4 linked regions of the Homo sapiens genome follow. The protein of the gene in region 1 purifies or fractionates together with the protein of each later gene. This does not show direct contact. Each region holds a gene or a part of one and is shown in the gene's direction. Other genes may lie near its edges.

Region 1 (4,095 bases):
TATTTTCCAGAGGATTTCATGGTTCTAGAAGTACTACTTCTAAAGCCTGCTTCTCTCTGCAGAGCTGCGAATGTCTTTTCAGATAAGAAATTCTGCATTCCATTTATCTTCAGGATGTATCCTTTGATAAGATTTCAACAGATTAATGAGCAACTGAACTGCCATATTTTGAAGTGGGAGAACAGTTTGCCTGAGTCAGGTATCCATCCCTTTAGGTTCTCGATTGGCCCTTGGCCCACGGTGAGTGAGCTCTCTTTGCTTGGTGCATCATCGCTCCACCTAGTTCAAGTTCTGGCGGCTTCCTGATTTTGATTCTCTTGGGAAATGAGGCCTGCTTTAGCCTGAGGCTGGCTCAGGAAGGCAACCTTTCACCTACTTAAGGAAAAGTTCACAGGCAAACTAAACAATATGTTGGGTTAAAAAAAGAGACCAATCCTACTAGTACTGGGTGAGTGAAAATCTTCTCTCTTACAGTACATGTAGTTCTACTACCTGCACTGGATGCTTTCTTTCTTATCCTTGTTTAGTGTCTAAAACGAGAAACAATGGCAAACTCCTTAAAATACAGAACCACTGTGGATTCCTAAGAACGTTCAAAAACAATAATTTGGAGTAAACTTTATTTTTTGAAAAGAAATAGCAAATTTGCATGGTGAGTGCATTTAGAGGAAAACGGGTTATATGCTAGGTCAAGTGAGGCCAAAACAAGAGAAATGATAATGGATAAGCTTTGAGTTTTTGAGGCTCTTCTTGCCCCAGGCAGTTCCAAAAGCCATTTTATTTGGCAGGATTTGACAGCAATTTCTGCAAGAACGGGATAACTAATCCAGTTAAAAACGAAAAAGAATATGCATACTATTTCATAATTTATATTGAAATTTATACATTACAGCAATAATTGTGCGACTGTAATTTTTTTTTTTTTTTTTTTGGTGGAGGGGTGTTTTTTCCTGGAGGGACGGAGCTCCTGCAGACCCTATTGGGCTAGCCGCTCCTCCCACGTCGCTGCCGCAGATCCCCGCTCCCCTCCCCCACCCGCGGTCCGTCCCTCCTGGTCGACCCCGTTCCCGCCCCCGCCCCGCGCAGACTGCAGCCAGGTCCGGTCCGCGGCGGCTCCGCGGAATGACCCGTAGTAACCTCGCCCCGCCCCGGGCCGCCAGCGCCGCGCTCCCCGGCCCGAATTCGATAGGCCCAGCCCCGCACGCGCCACCGCTCGCGGGCCAATGGGTGGCAGCCTCTCTGCATAGGCAACGAGTGCCGGCCGGGGGTGAGCGTCCCAGGCGGTTCCGCTCAACAGACGCTGCTGTGGCTGCGCCGGGCTGCGACACTGCAGTTGTCTACGCGGCCGGGGCCGGGACGAGGAGGCGTTGGACGGGGTCGCATACGTTCGTCCCCTCGCATTGCGGCCCCGACAGCTGCGCCAGGATCCCCGGGCGGCGGCGCGGGGCGTGAACGCTCTGGGGCTCAGCCAGGCCTGCGCGGGCCCGAGGCCGGAGGAACCCGGACTCCGGCGTAGCGGTGAGTGCGGCGCCGGTTGTGGGAGCGGCGGGAGCCGGTTGGCGGCGCGGCCTCCGCGTGCGGTTCGGCTGGGCCCGAGGGGCTCCCCAGCCTCGGGGCCTGGGACCCTGTCGTCGGCGCCGCACCTGACCGCTGGGTGTGCGCGCGGGCGGCCCGCGGCACCAGGAGCAGCGGCGAGCAGGGTGGGAGGCGGCCCGCTGGGGTCCGGGAAGCGGCTGACGTGGGGCCTCGGCCCTGAGCCCACGCGAGCCGGGAGCTGCAGCGCGAACGGCGTGGGGCGGCGCTGACCAGGCAGGGAGGATGCACTGCGTGCCTCCCGGCGCTGTGGGGCGGGGTGGGGAGGCCACCCCCTTGAATTAAGAGGGCTCTGCCGCGGCCCCAGCAGTGCGGTGTCCGTGGAAGGAGACTCAGCCCTGCGATTTCGGAAAACCCTTGTTTGGCGGGGCGGGAGGGGCTGTTGCTGCGTGGGGTGAGAAGAAACTAGGTGCGTGAGGTGGGTCGACCTTGGTGATTGGTTCTGGGCACTATCGTGGTGGTGGGACTGGGATTAAGACTGTCGTTTGGGGTTTGAGAGTTGCAGCTTTGCTTTTCCCCAAGTGCGTTTTAATCATATACTGTTGATAGGTTGGGTAACTCGGGGACTGCTTACTACCAGCAGTCCTGTGGGGTAGGTGTTATCAGGCTCGTTTCACAGATGAGGAGCCCGAGGCACAGGTTTTCAAATGGTTTTCGCAGGAAGTCTGATACTAGAAAGTGTGCTCTAAGCTGCTGTATAAAAGATCCCTCGAAAATGAAAAGGCTGGAGGAATGTCTTTAAAATTATATGGAAGCTAGAAAGGCAGTAGGCTTTGTGAACGAAATTATAGCTGAAAAGAATGACAAATAGCTGACATTTATTGAGCTTTTATTACATGCCACGCACTGTTTGGAGAGCTTTATGTACAGTGTCTTCACACTGTTAACAGTCCTCTGGGGTGGGGGTTATTCCCATTTTACAGCGGGAGAAACTGCAGATTGGACGACTTAGCTTGCCTCAGATCTCAGCTAGTAAGAAGCTGGGATTCAGACAGGCCTGTGTAAATCCAGAGCTCTGAAATCTAAGCACTATATTTTGCTGCCTCTCCTTGGTGGCTGGCTGAATAGTTTCCACAGTGGATTTTAGTCTGGGTGGCCAGGAGAGTTGTAGTTTGATGATACCTTCTTTCATGTTTATCAACCTATTTTGTTTCCCCAAATTAGTTCTGAGAGTTAAGGGTGCTGATGAGTTGCTCCTGAAAGTGTATTAGAAGGGTATTATAGGGGACAGGTGGTGTGACATGGGAATCTTTTGCACAGACTTGATTTTGTTTTCTGGCATTTTTCTGGGCAGTTCCTCACACTTGGGGATGAGTAAGCCTTCTAATTGTCGCATGCGTTTTCTCTCTAGACTTTTCCTGGTTTCTCTTTTGTATAAAAATATTGGTTTTGTAGGATGACATTGGGTGTGGGGCAGAGTGGTCCATTGGACCTAAGGGTCAAGGTGACAAGTCACCTCGTATCTTTGGATCTCAGTTACTGAATTTGTAAGGCTTTAGACTCAGTGACTTAAAGCTTAAATATTCTGAGGGTCTAAAATGTTCTCCTTGAAGGAAGAAAGGAAGAATGGGAGAAATGAAGAACGCACAAATTATAAGGGGAAAATCATCCTCTGTCTGGTTTGGGGTGAGAATCAGATCTTAAAGCCTCGAGGTCTGTTTCATTTGCTTTTGTGTTTCCCTGCTGTTTGGTTCCAGTTAAGTGACTGTTTCATTCCTCATTTGATTAATTGACTCACCTAGAGCCATTTAATTTTTGTGATATGTCAGGCACCTTATTAGGTGCTGGGAATACAGCTGTGAATAGAGGGAAAAATAGACAAGAAGCAAATGGTCATACAAACGGATAGGTGGTTGCAAGTTTGATAGGTACGATGAAGGAAAAGTATTGTGTGAATGAGGATTATGAGCAAGATTGTGATGTAGATGGAAATCTAGTCTAGGGAGCTGTTTTTTGAATTGATGTGGTGAGATTTTGCTAGAGGACAGTCTTGAAATCTGAGCCTGCAATTATGTACATAATGCAAGAGTTTGGGAAGTTGTCAGCAACAATAATTCTTTTCATTGCACAGTGTATTTCATACTCAGAATGTCATCCCGGCTCTCATTGCAAGATACGAAAATGAGATAGGCAACTTTACAAGTTGTCATTCTGTCTGCCTTCAGGGTACTTAAAGCTTAAATAGTCCTCTAATACTTTCTCCCACTCAAAATGAACTGTAAGGGGGAGTAAGACTCTTTTATGTGAGATTTGGGCTTGAATATTGGATTTAGATTTTTTTTAGGAAAGCTAGGCCAAGGGTGATAGGCTTTTAAAACAACGAGCATCATAATGACTCAAAAGTATCCATTGTAGCATACGCTTCACAGGGTCATTTAACTTAAAAGTCTCATCATCTTAGGAGATCATTTTTTGATGGCTGGATTGGGAAATATAGATTGTTAAAAATATATAAATGTCTCAGTTGAACATGTATGAAGCCAATTCAAATAATACATTGCA
Region 2 (3,500 bases), on another chromosome or scaffold:
CTTTTCTGAGGGAAATGGACCCAGACTGCCCGCAGTGCCTAGTGGGTTTTGCTCCTGGAGCCTCAGGGCAGAGGAAGTCAGCCAGTCTTGAACAGCTGTCTTACCAACCACCATGGGAAGAGTTACAGAAAGCTTTTTCTCCAAAACATGCGCATAAGAGCTGTGCAACCTGTGTTACAGAGTTGAACTATAAAACGTAAAATTGCCTTACATTATCGACATCCCGCTAACCATATAGTCCCAGAGAAAAATGTAAAGCAGAGTGAATATCCCGGGAGGTTGGATGGAAGCACCTCCTCCAAGGCAGACTGACATTCAGCAGTTACATGCACCGAGGAGGTAAATGGAATAAATGGAAAGATAAATGGAAGTGTAATTCAAGCAGATTTAGCAGTACACTACAGCCTTTTTTAAGGCATGAAAATTTTTATGGAGGAAAAAACTTGAACTTCACTGTTGTAGTTTTGTGAATGCTTCCAGCAGTTGTCACTTTGGGAAATACTGTGAGGAAATACTCACAAGCGCCTGAGAGTAGAGAGCAGAATGTACGGGCTTTATTTGGATCCTGATTCAAACAAATGCTGTTAAAAGAAAATTTGGTGAGACAATCAGAGATATCTGAACACTGAATATTTGAATATATTTAACATCAAATTTAAACTTAACATTTAAAAATTGTTAATGTCTTAAGTATGATACTAGTTTTGTGATTATGTTTTGAGAGAGTTTTTATCTTTTAGAAATACACAGTGCAATGTTTATAGATGAAACCCCATGAAGTCTGGGACTCACTACAAAGAAATGATGAGGGTGGTAGGGGATATAGGTGAAGCAAGGTTGTCCTTGAGTTGATAATGTTTGAATCTGGGTGATGGGGATTCTTTGTTCTGTTCTACTTTGTTCAGGCTTGAAATTTTTCATAATGAAAGGTTTAAACATGCTTTTTAAAAAGGGCAGGAGTGCAGAGTTTCTCAAAACTCTGCTGGATCTATGAAACACTAAGGAAAACACTAGCTGTGTTCTGACAATCCATTAACATGGCCATCAGTAAGTAATGATTGAATGCCTACTGTGTGCCCAGAATGGAACTTGGTGCTGAGGGCTGGACCCAAAGATGAGGACCGAAGGAGTTCTGAGTGGTCAGAAAGATGTAGGACTCAAAGCCCATTAGGTCATTTTAGAGCACATTAGGTTCTTCTGCTGTCCAGTTGGTCAAAGATTCCATCGCCATGACGTTTGGATAAATTGACTTATGAAATGCTGAGAGGCAAACTGAATACAAGAATAAAGTGCTCAAAACTTCGATAGACTTTTTATTTATCTCAGTGCATCCCATGAGGAAGGCCAGCTAGACCACTGTTTTAGCGAGGAAATAGTCTTATTTTGTACCTGTGACTACTTTTAATATCGAACAGCTTTGGGTTTTATTTTCTTATAATTTATTTGTCTTTGCTGTGAGTTAATTTGTCATGTATAATGAAATGGTAAAAATGTATAAAATGAGACAGTTTCAGATGGGCCATGAGACTACAGTTCATTCAGCGATAGATGTTATATGGTTTATTTTTTATTTTCATGTAGATAGGTAGTTTGAATCCAGATATTAACAGACAGTTTAATGCTGTTAAATTTTGTCTCTAGGCTTGAAGTTGGCCTTTTTTTTCTTTAAACTGTGGAATAACTGTCACTCCTCCTTTTCCGGCAGATTGATGATATTGATCTTATCAGTGCCAACATGGAGAATGCACTTGCTTCTATTGGAGGTTTCTGCTGTGGCAGGTCTTTTGTAATTGACCATCAGGTGGGTTCTTTTTAAAAACAGGAGCTAAAACTGAAACTAATTTCTCCATTGGTCACCTCAAAATATAATTTTGAAATACGAAATTTTACTTAGTTTATCACACAATTTTTATTTAAATGTCAATTTTTAAAGAATCACTCAAAATATTTCTATTTAGAAATGATCTCACATTTAACAAAAAGTCTTGTTGCTGTTACACGTATAATGTTTATTTATGGCTGGATCTTACCCCCCTCACCACATGTACACACTGTTCAGTAGTTGTTCTAGAGAACTGGTGCCTTTCAAATGTTTACCTAGAAAGGACAGAGAATGTGTATATGTCTTCATTTGTTTCTTCTCAGCGACTTTCCGGCCAGGGATACTGCTTTTCAGCTTCGTTACCTCCCCTGTTAGCTGCTGCAGCAATTGAGGCCCTCAACATCATGGAAGAGAATCCAGGTATAACCCTTTAAAAACCCAAGGAATCAAAGAGATTTCAGGTTACGTTAGTTGTGTTACTGATTTACTTACTGGAGAAATTATTTGCCAGACAAAACTGGTTTGCAGTTACATTATATGGCATTCATAGGAAGAATGGCAGTGAAGAAGCTATTCCTGCCCCAAGGACTTGGGGTCAGAGCTTTTCTCCTGTGCTTGGGGCCAGAGCCAGAGCCAAAGCAAGGCTAGCTCAGATAGTGGGTGGAGATGCTGGGAGGACGAGGGGCTCTCAGCCAGTTCTGGGCCTAAACGTTCCATTGGTGTAAATAAGCCAGTCTTTATTTGGTTAATAGTTTTTTGAGAAATCAGCTGAAGCATGCTGCTTTTTTATCTGTGCAATTTTATAAATATTGTGAGTTTTCACCTTTAGCCTTTGAATCATCAGTTGGTACTGAGGCCAAGCCGGGTTTACCAGCAAAGAACTTACTCAGTGGGAAAAATAAAAAGTCTACTAAGAATTTAAAATGTGGCCTTTGGCTATGACAGTGCCACCTTTGCAAAGCTTAAAACGGAAAGGGAGCAGCAGGCCCTACCCGGTACAGTATTTCTGAATCTTCATCACTGATACTAATTCAGAGAACCAGAAAATGTGTGTCTCTGTGCTCATTCATATGCTTGCTTCTCAGATGGCCTGGCACGCCTACCTTCTGATCAGATACTTTAGTTTTGGGATTTTCCTTGAATAAAAAAGGAAAATATCAAGAAAAGATTGTAAAAATTACTTTACTATAGTTGATTTTTTACCAAATTGTTTAGGATAAAGAAATAAGCAATAAATTTGTACCCTTTGATTCTTAGCCAGATTAGGATCTTGATGAGAACAAGAGGCATTGATTGTTCTTGAAAGCATCATTCCAGGTTTGTTGAAAGTGGGATACTGAGGTGAGAAGGGGCCAGTTAGCACGCACCAGAGACAAAGCTTGGGCCTTCAGGGGAGTATGGGTTCTTGGCTCTGTTAGTATGTAGAAGGATTTGTAGCATTTTAAATTGATGAACTTGATCTGGGTCTTCAAAAATATTTTTAGGTTAGTACTATCATAAGTTTCAAATAGACTCTCAAACGTATTTTTTTCATCTAGGTATTTTTGCAGTGTTGAAGGAAAAGTGCGGACAAATTCATAAAGCTTTACAAGGGTGAGTTTTATATATTTTCAACCAACATAAAGTTTATCTGCACCACACTTAACAACTAATGGAAAGTTTTAAATTTCTAGGCTTG
Region 3 (3,500 bases), on another chromosome or scaffold:
AAGGTCAGAGAGGAAGAGCAGTGGGTGAAAGCAAATGATTTCCGTCTGTTCTTAACTCTGATGCATAAAAGATGTGTGTAAATACAGAGTTTTCTGATGAAGACCATAATAAATCAGTGGAAGATTTTTGGAGCTTTTGACTCTAGCTTTGGGGCTGCCCAGTCTAAAGTTACTTCTGAGATGAAATGATGTATCAGGGATTTTTTTTTTTCATTAGGCCAGGTATTCTAGCAGTTAATCTTGAAGTTGTGCCTGGTTGATCTTTTAAGATAATTGCCATCACCACATAGTTTAGAAATCTCCCACCCCAAGTTGAAGGTGATACACTAAAGAAGGGAGAGAAGCCAGAAGCCTCACTTTCATTCACTTAGTCATTCTTTCAACATGTCGTTTCCAGCACTTTTCTATGTGCCAGGTCTTGAGCTGGGTGCCTGAAATAAAAAAGATAAATAAGACTTCAAGGAGGTCTTACATATGCTCAATAAGCAAGACTGGGAAAAATAAAATATTTTTCTTTGTTAGAAAAAGCTGGGGAACTTTGCTTTAAGTACAATCCTTTGAGAAGGCTAAATCAATTACCCATTCACAATGTGGAATGTTACATTATGGATTTGTGTGAAACGGCACTTCTATAATGATTAGAGAGAGATGTATGTTCCCTTTAATATGCCACACAAGCTGTTCCACCAATTTTCTTCTCTTGGCCTTGGGCATACTTACTTGTCCGGTGCTGTTAGTATTATTAGAAATTATTAACAAATGGCTGTAAAGGACTATAGGTTATAGGAGCCAGTGGCTCTGCTTCCAGCTTCTCCCATTTTTTTTTGTTTTTCATTTTGAGACAGAGTATTGCTGTGTCGCCTAGGCTGGAGCGCAGTAGTGTGATCTTGGCTCACTGCAACCTCTGCCTCCTGGGTTCAAGCAATTCTCTTGCCTCAGCCTCCTGAGTAGCTGGGACTACAGGCGCGTGCCACCACGCCCAGCTAATTTTTGTATTTTCAGTAGAGACGGGGTTTCACCATGTTGGCCAGGCTGGTCTTGAACTCCTGACCTCATGATCCACCTGCCTTGGCCTCCCAAAGTGCTGGGATTACAGGCGTGAGCCACTGCACCTGGCCTCTTCTTTGTTTTAAAGCATGATTTATTTATTTATTTTGAGACAGCATCTCACTCTGTTCCTAGGCTGGAGTTGAGTGATGAGCTCATGGCTCACTGCAGCCTTGACCTCCTGGATTCAGGTGATCCTCCTACCTCAGCCTCCTGAGTAATCAGGGCTATAGGCATGCGCCACTACACCCAACTAATTTTTGTATTTTTTGTAGAGACAAGGTTTCACCATGTTGCCCAGGCCCATCTTAAATTCCTAGGCTTAAGCGATCCGCCCGCCTCAGGTTCCCAAACCGCTGGGATTACAAGCGTGAGCCAATGCGCCCAACCCTACAGCATGATTTACTCTGGCCAAGAGAGTTGCCAGGAAATTTGTTAATATTTAAAGCTTAGTTTTGATTCAGTCAATATTGCAAATCTAGCCCTATCAGAGGAAGGTCTTTAAAAACAAAGGCTATTTCATTTCCCAAGGATAATGAAATTACTGCATCTTTTATTATTGTTGGTTGCATTCCTACTCTTTTGAATTAGAATACTTTTATCAAAAACAAGAATATTCAATTAGTGGTAGAAGGCACCTAATTCCAATCCTATCTATTACTAACTAGATGTATAACCTAGTAAAAGTGACTCACTTCTCTCTAATATTTGTTTCTTTATGTAATAGAGAGTTTCATACATTTTTCTAAAGTCGATTCTAAACAATATTAGAGTTAAGTATTGTGTGGAAGAAGCAAGAGTTTGAAAATAAAGTTTTATACTGACATTAGTTTTTTTTTTCTTTTTTTGTTGAACCACCCAAGAATGCATATGCTGACATTAACTTAATGTAACATTTCTGTCCCCAGATTTAGTGCTATACAATGTGCAGCTGCCGTCCCTAGAGCTCCTGCTGAATCCTCTTCGTCTTCCAAAAAGTTTGAGCAGTCACATCTTCACATGTCAAGTGAGACACAAGCCAACAATGAGCTGACCACCAATGGTCATGGCCCACCTGCATCCAAGCAGGTTTCCCAGCAGCCCAAAGGAATTATGGGAATGTTTGCCTCCAAAGCTGCTGCTAAAACCCAAGAAACCAACAAGGAAACGAAAACAGAGGCTAAAGAAGTAACAAATGTAAGTCTTCTTTGAAGATACCCCTTCATTGCAGCTCAGAGTGGGTAACTAGAAAAGCATTAATGGTTGCAGTGGTAGTAGTTTATTTATATAAGATTCTGATATTCAGTTCTGATTTTTCTACTTTAGTTTGAACCCTTTAATACTTGATATTGTTATCTGAAAGAGTTCTTTTGCTTTTGATAATGATTCTCACCAAACCTTGGATTTCCTTTGCAAAATGGTAATGCCTACCTTGTGCACATTACAAGATTGTTGTGAAACCCAGATGAAAACATGTGAAAACACCTCGAGAATTGTTGACATTCAAAAAAATGTTTATTTGCAATATGTCTTTCTGAGGAACATCTTATATTCTGGGCTTTGCAACATATACCTTCCTTCCTAGTGTATTTCCCATTCTTATACTTTATGCAGGTTTTTTTGTTTTGTTTTTGCCTTATTTGCTTCTCTTAGATTTTTATTGTTCAGTCATCTGAACTAACTCAAGGGCATTGACTTAAGAAAAGTATCATTAAGATACTATTTTAAAAATCCAGAAAAGCATAATTATTGTTGTTACTATTATTATTATCACTGTCATTTTCCAGTGTCAAGTGTATTTAATTCAGATCACTGTCATTTTCAAGCGTCTGTCTTGGGAAAGAAGAAGGATGGAGGAAAACACTAACGTTTATTGAATTTCAACTGTGTGCCAGTGTCTTTGTTTAAATCCTCTTATCAGTTCTGTGAGGGAGATATTAACTATTTCCCTTTCGCATATGGTAAAACTGAAACCTAGACTTAAGTAATTTGCCTGGAGCCCATATTGCTACTAAATGGTGGGAACCAGGAATTCAGATCTACTTCTGATGATTAAAAATGTAATGTTTTAGGTTTTCCCGCTTTGTGTACATACTGCCTCTGATCTTTTTTAATTCTGTCAAATTAAATAGTTTTTAAATGTGCTCAAGAAAAGTTTAGCTATATCCATGGATAATTAATTTTATAAGATATATAAGAAACTAAGCTTTAGAGATTAACACCAGTTACTGTCTGGTGTGGATTATTGTTCTAGATTTGTTCTTATATCTAACACCTACGCGTTTTGGCATGATTATATAGAGACTATACCATCGCAACAGTTTGCTATAGAAGAGTTTGTTTGAGACTGCTACTTCATGAACAGCCTAAATGCCAGCAAAAAATCATATGTGTTTTCTGTGCTTGTAGGCATCTGCAGCAGGCAACAAGGCACCAGGGAAAGGGAATATGATGAGCAACTTTTTTGGAAAAGC
Region 4 (3,500 bases), on another chromosome or scaffold:
CATCCTATCCACGAAGCACTGCATGTTTAGCAGTGTCTCGTCAACCCTGACAGTATTTGGTTTAGGAGCAAAACTGAACTCACCAGTGCTGCGTTTAGTCATGTAGTCAAAGATATGTGTCTCTTACCTGTGGGAAAACGAAAATGACTAACATTAACACGTAGAAATAGATGCAGCGGGTATTTCAAGCTAACTACAGTGTGAAGACGATTGAAACTTGTACAGAGGGCAAACCTCTATCTATATTTCCTTGGCATTTTGAAATGACTCTAGGGGCTGTAAGAGGAAATGTTCTGCCAGTTTGCTGCTTTATAATCTTCTAGAAACTTGAAACCATCCCAATGAGTTGTGTTGACCAGCTCCTTTTACTCCATATAAAAAATATCTTACGTATCTGTGGTGGAAAGAGAAACTCTTGCGTTTGGAGGCTGCTTTTTCAATTTCAGTAATGTACACATTTTCTCATTTTGCCCTCAGCAAATTTGTGATAGGTAGTGTTAAGCCTTCTTTGCATTTTGGACTTCAGATTAATATGGAGCCCACAGGAGCTGCAGAACTAACTTTTTTTTTTGAGACGGAGTTTCGCTCTTGTTGCCCAGGCTGGAGTGGAATGCTCACTGCAGCCTCCGCCTCCCGGGTTCAAGTGAGTCTCCTGCCTCAGCCTCTGAGCAGCTGGGATTACAGGTGCCCGCTACCAAGCCCAGCTGATTTTTTAATATTTTTAGTAGAGACGGGGTTTCACCATGCTGGCCAGGCTGGTCTCGGACTCCTGACCTCAGGTGATCCACCCGCCTTGGCCTCCCAAAGTGCTGGCATTACAGGTGTGAGCCACCACACCTGGCCCTAATTTTTAATAAAAGAGCTGATGCTACAGCTAATCTCTTTTTTTTCTGAGACAGAGTCTCGCTCTGTTGCCCAGGCTGGAGTGCAGTGACGCAATCTCCGCTCACTGCAAGCTCCGCCCCCCGGGTTCATGCCATTCTCCTGCCTCAGCCTCCCAAGTAGCTGGGACTACAGGTGCCCGCCACCATGCCCAGCTAATTTTTTTGTATTTTTAGCAGAGACGGGGTTTCACTGTGTTAGCCAGGATGGTCTTGATCTCCTGATCTGGTGATCCGCCCGCCTCGGCCTCCCAAAGTGCCTGCTAATCTCTTAATTCTGGCTTCTTGCCTCCACCTTGGAGCTTCTTCTCAGTTGTGGCGATCTGATCAGAGAGAAGTGGTGATGTCGCTAAAACTACCAGATGCAGCGCGGGAGCCTTATTGCTTCGAGGTCTAGGCCCGCCCCCAGCCCCTCCTGGAAGTGCACTGAAGCCAAGTGTAGGATGTTCTTTGTGTGAGTGAGCAATGATGCATCATTGGGTTTTGTTCTCTTGAATAGCTATTCTTTGCTGGTAAGATTTGTAGTTGTTCTTGTGTCCTTTTAAGGGAAGTGTAATTATATTCTTTGCCTTTAGCATACATTTAAGTAGCTGTGTCTTTGGAATTGGATGTTGAATTGTTCCTCCAGCTCACACATGGAGCTCACAAAATGCTGACAGTTGCTGTAGAAACGATATCTGGCAGCTGTGACAGAGTTGGATCTTTGTGCACCCAAAAAATTTCCTTTGTAGGCTTTAGCAAATTAACATTTTAAAATGGGTGCTCATTATATACTGGGTAGTTGGTTTTAAGAATAAAAAACAGTTGGTATTTTATTTGCCACCTGAGAGACTACAAAAGGATTCTCCAGGTTCTGTAAAACCACTTATGCATCTTGTGAATTTTTGCAGGTAAAATAATTTTCTCCCTAAGAAATAGCAAACATCTGTCATTCCATAGCTTTTAAGTTAAGTAGGCACTGGAGCCTGATGGGACTAACACACCCTACAATTCTGCTGAGTTTTTGTCGTAACTGATCACCAGGACTGTGATTCTGAGACTTAGTTTTGATTTCTCCCCCACTTGACCAGATGATAAAAAACCAAATGGGAGAAAAGTTGTGGGTGATGTGGCATACGACGAGGCCAAAGAGAGGGCGAGCTTCATCACTCCTGTTCCTGGCGGCGTAGGGCCCATGACAGTTGCAATGCTCATGCAGGTAATTGTGAATAAAAGTTTCTATAAGAGTTCTGAAAAGCTGATCGAGTTTTGGCTGCTTTTCTCCCCAAGTAGAAATGTCAAAAACCTACTCAGAAGTAAAGATGTGAATTTATTGAGAAAAAGGGAAGGGAAGAATAGAGAAATAAGATCAGGCACATTAATAGAGGAAAGTAGGGATGGCATAATTCCAGTCTGTTTTGGAATATAATAACTTTGAAAGAAGAAAAGTGCGATCACACTGGCTTGGCCAGGTCTGTTTTGGTTTGCCTTCCCTTTCTTTTTTTTTTTTTTTTTTTGAGACGGAGTTTTGCTCTTGCTGCCCAGGCTGGAGTGCAATGGTGTGATCTTGGCTTACCGCAACCTCCATCTCCCTGATTCAAGTGATTCTCCTGCCTCAGCCTCCTGAGTAGCTGGGATTACAGGTGTGCACCACCACGCCCGGCGAATTTTGTATTTTTAGTAGAGACAGGTTTCTCCACGTTGGTTAGGCTGGTCTGGAACTCCCGACCTCAGGTGATCCGCCCACCTTGGCCTTCCAAAGTGCTGGGATTAGAGGTGTGAGCCACCGTGCCCGGCCTGTTTTCCCTTTCTAACATGCACCAGCTGACAGGGGCCAGGCGAGCAGCCCCAAAGCATGTTAGGTGCCTCTTGACTCTTAGCTAGGATTGAAGCATGGTAATAAGTGGGTCTGAAGCAGTTCATTTTGTGATTGAACTGGAGTGACCTGGAGCTTGAAACTGAGGTGAGGATTAAAATAACCACCTCTTCTAAGTTTCATTTATTTCATTTTGCTTAGAGCACAGTAGAGAGTGCCAAGCGTTTCCTGGAGAAATTTAAGCCAGGAAAGTGGATGATTCAGTATAACAACCTTAACCTCAAGACACCTGTTCCAAGGTAAAAATAAAGTTTTACTGATTTAAAACTTTGTGAATTGTTGGTTTTTAGTTGACAGATACTGTGGGTTCACATATGCTCCCTCTGAAGGTGCCTTCAGTGGTTGGGGTTGGGTTGGGGGCTTGTTACTACTGTGGGATTAATTAAACTCAGTGGATAAACATTAATACCTATTTTCTATGTTTCCAAAGTGACATTGATATATCACGATCTTGTAAACCGAAGCCCATTGGTAAGCTGGCTCGAGAAATTGGTCTGCTGTCTGAAGAGGTAGAATTATATGGTGAAACAAAGGCCAAAGTTCTGCTGTCAGCACTAGAACGCCTGAAGCACCGGCCTGATGGGAAATACGTGGTGGTGACTGGGTATGCTTTTTATTCATGTTGCCATCCAAATCTTAGTATCAGTCCTGATACTAAGGCGTTGCATTTGCACTTGGCACATGTATGTAGAGGTGCCTTTAATTTGATTTTAGCATTTTCACCCGTATTTGATCTCATTTGATCCTTACAGCAATCCTGAGAG

The links. Proteins that work in one complex are often made in the same cells at the same time.
Region 2: the proteins of ACSL3 (region 1) and SPTLC1 purify together in Homo sapiens (affinity purification with mass spectrometry, with the first as the bait; one large-scale study listed by BioGRID). This does not show direct contact.
Region 3: the proteins of ACSL3 (region 1) and POLD3 purify together in Homo sapiens (tandem affinity purification; one large-scale study listed by IntAct). This does not show direct contact.
Region 4: the proteins of ACSL3 (region 1) and MTHFD1 fractionate together in Homo sapiens (co-fractionation; one large-scale study listed by BioGRID). This does not show direct contact.

Annotation. Positions count from the first base shown.
Region 1 is NC_000002.12:222,859,741-222,863,835, forward strand, and holds the start of ACSL3 (fatty acid CoA ligase Acsl3), read left to right. Parts: upstream 1-1,295; 5' UTR 1,296-1,518; intron 1,519-4,095. UniProt on the Homo sapiens protein: Acyl-CoA synthetases (ACSL) activates long-chain fatty acids for both synthesis of cellular lipids, and degradation via beta-oxidation.
Region 2 is NC_000009.12:92,045,914-92,049,413, reverse strand, and holds part of SPTLC1 (serine palmitoyltransferase 1), read left to right. Parts: intron 1-1,705; coding exon 1,706-1,801; intron 1,802-2,145; coding exon 2,146-2,242; intron 2,243-3,360; coding exon 3,361-3,415; intron 3,416-3,500. UniProt on the Homo sapiens protein: Component of the serine palmitoyltransferase multisubunit enzyme (SPT) that catalyzes the initial and rate-limiting step in sphingolipid biosynthesis by condensing L-serine and activated acyl-CoA (most commonly palmitoyl-CoA) to form long-chain bases.
Region 3 is NC_000011.10:74,616,582-74,620,081, forward strand, and holds part of POLD3 (DNA polymerase delta subunit 3), read left to right. Parts: intron 1-1,955; coding exon 1,956-2,223; intron 2,224-3,435; coding exon 3,436-3,500. UniProt on the Homo sapiens protein: Accessory component of both the DNA polymerase delta complex and the DNA polymerase zeta complex.
Region 4 is NC_000014.9:64,422,853-64,426,352, forward strand, and holds part of MTHFD1 (C-1-tetrahydrofolate synthase, cytoplasmic), read left to right. Parts: intron 1-1,951; coding exon 1,952-2,079; intron 2,080-2,877; coding exon 2,878-2,975; intron 2,976-3,166; coding exon 3,167-3,340; intron 3,341-3,500. UniProt on the Homo sapiens protein: Trifunctional enzyme that catalyzes the interconversion of three forms of one-carbon-substituted tetrahydrofolate: (6R)-5,10-methylene-5,6,7,8-tetrahydrofolate, 5,10-methenyltetrahydrofolate and (6S)-10-formyltetrahydrofolate.